Linked DNA regions of Homo sapiens: region 2 is linked to region 1. Evidence: fine-mapped expression QTL. A gene starts in region 1. The other region holds a variant in brackets. All regions are shown on one strand. Distances are from middle to middle. Region 1 holds the start of COCH (cochlin). Region 2 has its middle 27 kb from the start of COCH.

Region 1 (2,813 bases):
CTCAGTATAAAATGGCATGGGAATACTTTTCAACAATAAAAAGAAAGGAAGTACTGTTCTATAATGCCTCATGGATGAACCTCAAAAACATTCTGTGCAGTGAAGGAAGCCGCACAATGTATAATCCCATCTATAAGAAACGACCACTAAGAAAAATCTATAGAGACAGGAAATAGGTTAGTGATTGCCTAGGACTAGGAGTGGGAGAAGAGACTGACTGACAATGGCGAGGAGATCATTTTGGGGAGGATGAACCTGTTCTGAAATTGGCTTGTGGTGATGGTTGTACAGCTCTGAAAATTTACTAAACATCATTGAACTGTACACTCAAAACGGATGGATTTTATGGCATGTAAATTGTAACTAAATAAGGCTATTTGAAAAAGTTTATATTGTACCAGAAAGGTTAGCGTCTGGGCCTGGGTCTGGTTCTTCCGCTGCCATGCAGGTCGCCTGTCACTAACACTCCTCAAGAATTCTGCTCCTTCTCCATTTCCATTTGTAAAACGTTAGCAGGATGGTGCGGGGAGAAGGAGAACACATTATCAAATCTGAGATTCTGTGCAGTCACAAGACACCAAGTCTGGGAATTTCGAAAGGCAATCAGGCATAAATTCTTCCTGAGGTGAGAAAGAAGCAAAGGTACCGGCTGCTGGGGTCAGGGCTGTCTCACACGCGTGGCTCTAGGCAGGAGCACAAATTGAACCACTGGGGAAAGTAGGACTCCAGCAGAAACGAAGGCGCAAGGCCGAATCCCTAAGGTCCAACGAGCTAGCAGTCAGTTGACAGGGTTTCTAACAAAAACGCGGCATGCGTTTACCAAACCTAGGGTGGTTTTATTTCAGAAGTAGGAACTCTTTCCACGAGAGCACCAAGTTGAGAAGTTCGGTTCTCAGGCCGCGTGGACCTGACAGCTCTCAGAAGCTCCAGGCCTCGCTGGGTGGGGCGGGTAGCGGCCGCCGCTGCCTCAGCAGCCCTGGTCCCGGCAGAGCAGGGCTGGCGAGGCCGCTGCTGCCGCCGTCGGGGCCGCCGGCCCTCCACACTCGTTGAGACGCCGGCACGGGGACCTTCGTGCCCCTCTAGGGACTGGCGCCGCGTCCAGGTGGCCGAGCCTGCGCTGCTGGAGGAGGCGCCTCCGCGCCGGCCTCACCCCGGGGCCGGCAGGGGGCGAAGGCGGAGCTGGAAGTCGCCGCCGGGCCCCGGGGGACCGGCTCCCGCGCTTCCTCCCGCGCCCCCCGCACAGTGCTCATGCGCACGGCCCAGCCTTTATAGCGGCCGCGGGGGCCTTGCCTTCCGCACTCGGGCGCAGCCGGGTGGATCTCGAGCAGGTGCGGAGCCCCGGGCGGCGGGCGCGGGTGCGAGGGATCCCTGACGCCTCTGTCCCTGTTTCTTTGTCGCTCCCAGCCTGTCTGTCGTCGTTTTGGCGCCCCCGCCTCCCCGCGGTGCGGGGTTGCACACCGATCCTGGGCTTCGCTCGATTTGCCGCCGAGGCGCCTCCCAGACCTAGAGGGGCGCTGGCCTGGAGCAGCGGGTCGTCTGTGTCCTCTCTCCTCTGCGCCGCGCCCGGGGATCCGAAGGGTGCGGGGCTCTGAGGAGGTGACGCGCGGGGCCTCCCGCACCCTGGCCTTGCCCGCATTCTCCCTCTCTCCCAGGTGTGAGCAGCCTATCAGTCACCATGTCCGCAGCCTGGATCCCGGCTCTCGGCCTCGGTGGGTGCGCGCCCCTCACGACCCCGGCCCCTTGCTCCGCTGGGTGGAGGCTGGAGCCAGCCCTCACGCTTCTCTCTTCGCAGGTGTGTGTCTGCTGCTGCTGCCGGGGCCCGCGGGCAGCGAGGGAGCCGGTGAGTGGGGGAGCTGGGGTGCGTCCAGGCGGTCGCAGGGGCTGAGCACCAGCGGGTACAAGCGGGACTCAGATCCAGCCCCTTGGGCTTCAGCCCTACCGCCTGAGGAGGAAGGCGCGAAGGTTGAGCCGCCGCGTGGCGCGCCCGCGTTAACCCCTGCAGCCGATCTGCTCCTGCTCACCTGTTTCTCCCATGGTAGGGGGCCCCTGGGGTCCAGTGGGGGGACGTTCTCCAAGAGCACTAGGAAGAAGGCCTCCTCCAGGCCCACCCACAGCCCCAGACCCCGGGCCCGCTGAGCGCCGGCAGCAGGAGGTCGAGGAAGGAGGACTCCTTGAGCCTCACCGAGGAGCGCACCAGTCCTGGGCTCTGCTGCGTTTGGGGGTGGAGGAGAAGCCGCCCAGACCCGACTTCAGGTTGCCGTAGCCGAGAGAGAGGGAGGCGAACGTCGCTGTCCCACCTTGTTTGACTCGCTAGCTATGTTTCTAGGTGTAACCCCTATAATCAGAAGCACTCGCGGTCTCACTCTACACGCTAGAGAGTTTAAAAAGTTTGTACCACGTGTAGAGGTCCGGGTATGGGTGTGTGGTTTGGTGTATTTTCCAGTGTAAAAGGCAACGCTTTCCTAAGAGCTACCGTTTGTTTTCCTTGAAAGTAGGAATGAGGGTTAAGTATCCCTCATGGCTGTATTTCTCCCGCTCTACTTAACAAAAGTCAGTGTTCGCAACTAAAGGCGGTCGGTCTTGGCACCGGATTCCGATGCCGCCCCCATCTCAGCGGAAAATGGGAGGAAGGATTAAGGCTGTTTGATGATAGGTATGAGGCTGTTTAGGGGTAAGGATTTTAACCTCTCAGCTCTCTAGACTGCTTCAGAGCTAAGAAATGGGCATTGCGCCTGCATCCTTCCTTCTCTTCCATGGAATGTAAGGTACCTGTCACCACAAAGGGCACAGAGGAGGGTGCTTGTCACAGGCAA
Region 2 (2,813 bases), 27 kb before region 1:
GTTGAATAACAGTGGTGAAGGTGGGCAGCCTTGTCATGTTACAGATCTTAGAGGAAAGGCTTTTAGTTTTTCCCCATTCAGTGTGATACCAGCTGTGACTCTGTCATATATGATGTTTATTACATTGAGGTATATTTCTAGCCCCAGTATTTTTTTAAGGGTTTTATCATGAATGGATGTTGAATTTTATCAAATGCTTTTTCAGCATCAGTTGAAATGATCATGTGGTTTTTGTCCTTCATTTTGTTGATATGATGGATCACATTGATTTGACTATATCGAACCATCCTTACACCCTGGGATGCATCACACTTGTTGATGATAAATGATCTTTTTAATGTGTTGTCAAATTCTGTTTGCTAGCATTTTGTTGAGGATTTTTGCATCAATGTTCATAAGAGATACTGGTCTGCAGTTTTCTTTTTTTGTTGTGTCTTTGTCTGGTTTCGGTACTGGGTAACACTGACCTTGAAGAATGAGTTTGAAAGTATTCCCTCCTTCTTTGTTTTTTGGAATAGTTTGAGTAGGACTGGTATTAGTTTTTCTTTACATGTTTGGTAGAATTCAGCAGTGAATTCATCAGGTCCTGGACTTTTCTTTACGGCGAGATTTTTTATTGCGGCTTTAATCTCATCGCTTGTTATTGGTCTGCTCAGGTTTTGAATTTCTCTATAGTTGAATCTTAGTAGGCTGTATGTGCCTAGGAGTTTATCAATTTCTTCTAGGTTTTTCAATTTTTGGCACATAGTTGCTCAAAATAACCTGTAATGATCTTTCGAATTGCTGTGGTATCAGTTGTAATGTCTCCTTTTTCATCTGTTTATTTATTTGGGTCTTCTCTCTTCTTTGCTTAATTAGTCTGGCTAAAGGTTTGTCACTTTTATCTTTTCAAAAAACCAACTTTTGGTTTCATTAATCTTTTTCAAATTGCATTTTATCTGGCTGATATTTCCAAAAATGCATGGCTTATGCTTAGCATGATTTCCTAGTTTCAGTGTCAATGCAGTTTTGTCCTAATTACTTCTCTTTGGCCATTTTGTTCCATTACAAGCTTGTTTTTATGCCATCCCCTTTCCATTGAAGAAAAATATATATCACATACCCAAATATGTACACACATGTATACACATGTATATATAATTCTTGATATAATCAAAAGAATATATGTAATGTATATGTAAGTTTTAAGTAAAATAAGACAAAGAACAACACTCTGTATCCTTGACAATATAAGAAACAGAACACTGCAAAAAATTGTAACTATATACTTGCCCTCCCCTTATGGTGGAAGGTGCCCTCTTCATATAGGGAGAAGTACACAGAATATACCTGGCAGTGTTTCCTGATTTTAATGCTAGTAAATTTTATTCC[C/CT]TTTTTTTTTTACTTATCTTTAGCCATTTCATTGAAATTTTGTATTAGAGACCTTTGGGTGTTCATTATCAACTGATAGATTCAGTCTGTGTATGTGTTAATGAGAAAGAGTGACTGTAATAACCCATTTTCATACTGACGTTGCCTGGATTTGGTATCAAGGTAGCAGTGACCTCATAGAATGAGTTTTCTATCCTCTCAAAGAATTATTACATTTGGAATAATATGCTCCTTAGAAATTTGGTAGAACTACCTGTAAAACATCCAAGACATAGAGTTTTCTTAGTGGGAAAACATCACTGATAGTTTGATTTTTTTTAAATAGTCTTAGGACAATTCAGGCTTTCTATTTATTTTTTCTAAATTTTTATTTATTTGTTTTAATTGAGAAATAAAAATTGTATATATTTATCATGTACAGCATGCTTTGAAATAGGTACACATTGTGGAATAGCTAAATCGAGCTAATTAATATATATATTACCTCACATACATATCATTGCTTTGTGATGAGAACACTTCAAATCTATACTTAGCAATTTTCAAGAATATAATGCATTGTTATTAACTATAGTCTGCATATTTTACAACAGCTCTCCTTTTTTTTCAAAACAGGTTTTTCCTAGGATCTATGGAATAGATTAGTTCTGGAAAATTTAAAGCCCATATCTCTTTAAATATTGCCTACAATTTTCTCTCTAGTCTCACTTTTTGGGACTCGGTTAAATATATATTAGATTTCCTCACATATCTACTTTTTTATGTTTTCCAATTCCTTTTCTGCCTTTCCTGGAGTGATTATGGCTGTATTAAATCTGCTGTCAAACCCATTCATTGAGTCCTTAAATTTTTAACAATTGTATTTTACATTTTCAGAAATTCCCTTTTATTTCCAAGTCTACCTATTTATTCCTGCTGGTTTTTTTGTTACTTACTTATCTTTTTGATTGTGTCCATTATTTCTTTAAGTTTTTTTTTTTCTTAGAGACAGAGTCTCACTCTGTTGCCCAGACTAGAGTGCAGTGGTGAGATCATAGCTCGCTGCAATCTCCAACTCCTGGGCTCAAGAGAGCCTCTTGCTTCAGCCTCCCAGGTAGGTAGGGCAACAGGCGTGCCCCACCATACCTGGCTACTTTTTTCTTATTTTTTGTAGAGATGGGGCTCTCAATATGTTATCTAGTGTGGTCTCAAATTCCCAGCCTCCAGCGATCCTCTTGCCTCCATCTCCAAAAGAGATTACAGGCATGATCCACCACACCCTCCCCTTTAAATATTTTTAACATAGCTTCCCTATATTGTGCAACTGACAACTCTAATAACTGAAGTCTATGGGGAAGGGTCTAAATCTGTTTTTTTTTTTTCTATTGATCTCACTCAGCTTGGCTTGCATTGCAATGTGCATGGTGAACTTTGATTGTGAAATGATTGCTTAATCTGCAAAC

What was found. PIP is the estimated chance that this variant, and not a neighbour inherited with it, causes the effect. A credible set is the group of variants that fine-mapping cannot tell apart.
Region 2: its variant is the best candidate, but not a certain one, in a credible set for the expression of COCH in whole blood (INTERVAL, PIP 0.63).

The regions. Positions count from the first base shown.
Region 1 is chr14:30,873,264-30,876,076 of GRCh38, forward strand. It overlaps COCH (cochlin), which reads left to right and starts at 1,296. Exons shown (of 12, transcript NM_004086.3): 1 at 1,296-1,328; 2 at 1,653-1,709; 3 at 1,793-1,840. The coding sequence starts at 1,676. RefSeq lists a silencer at 858-1,377.
Region 2 is chr14:30,846,223-30,849,035 of GRCh38, forward strand. No RefSeq gene overlaps it. Among named protein-coding and RNA genes, the nearest start is that of COCH, 27 kb to the right of the region's middle. The variant C/CT (reference allele first, on the strand shown) is at 1,372.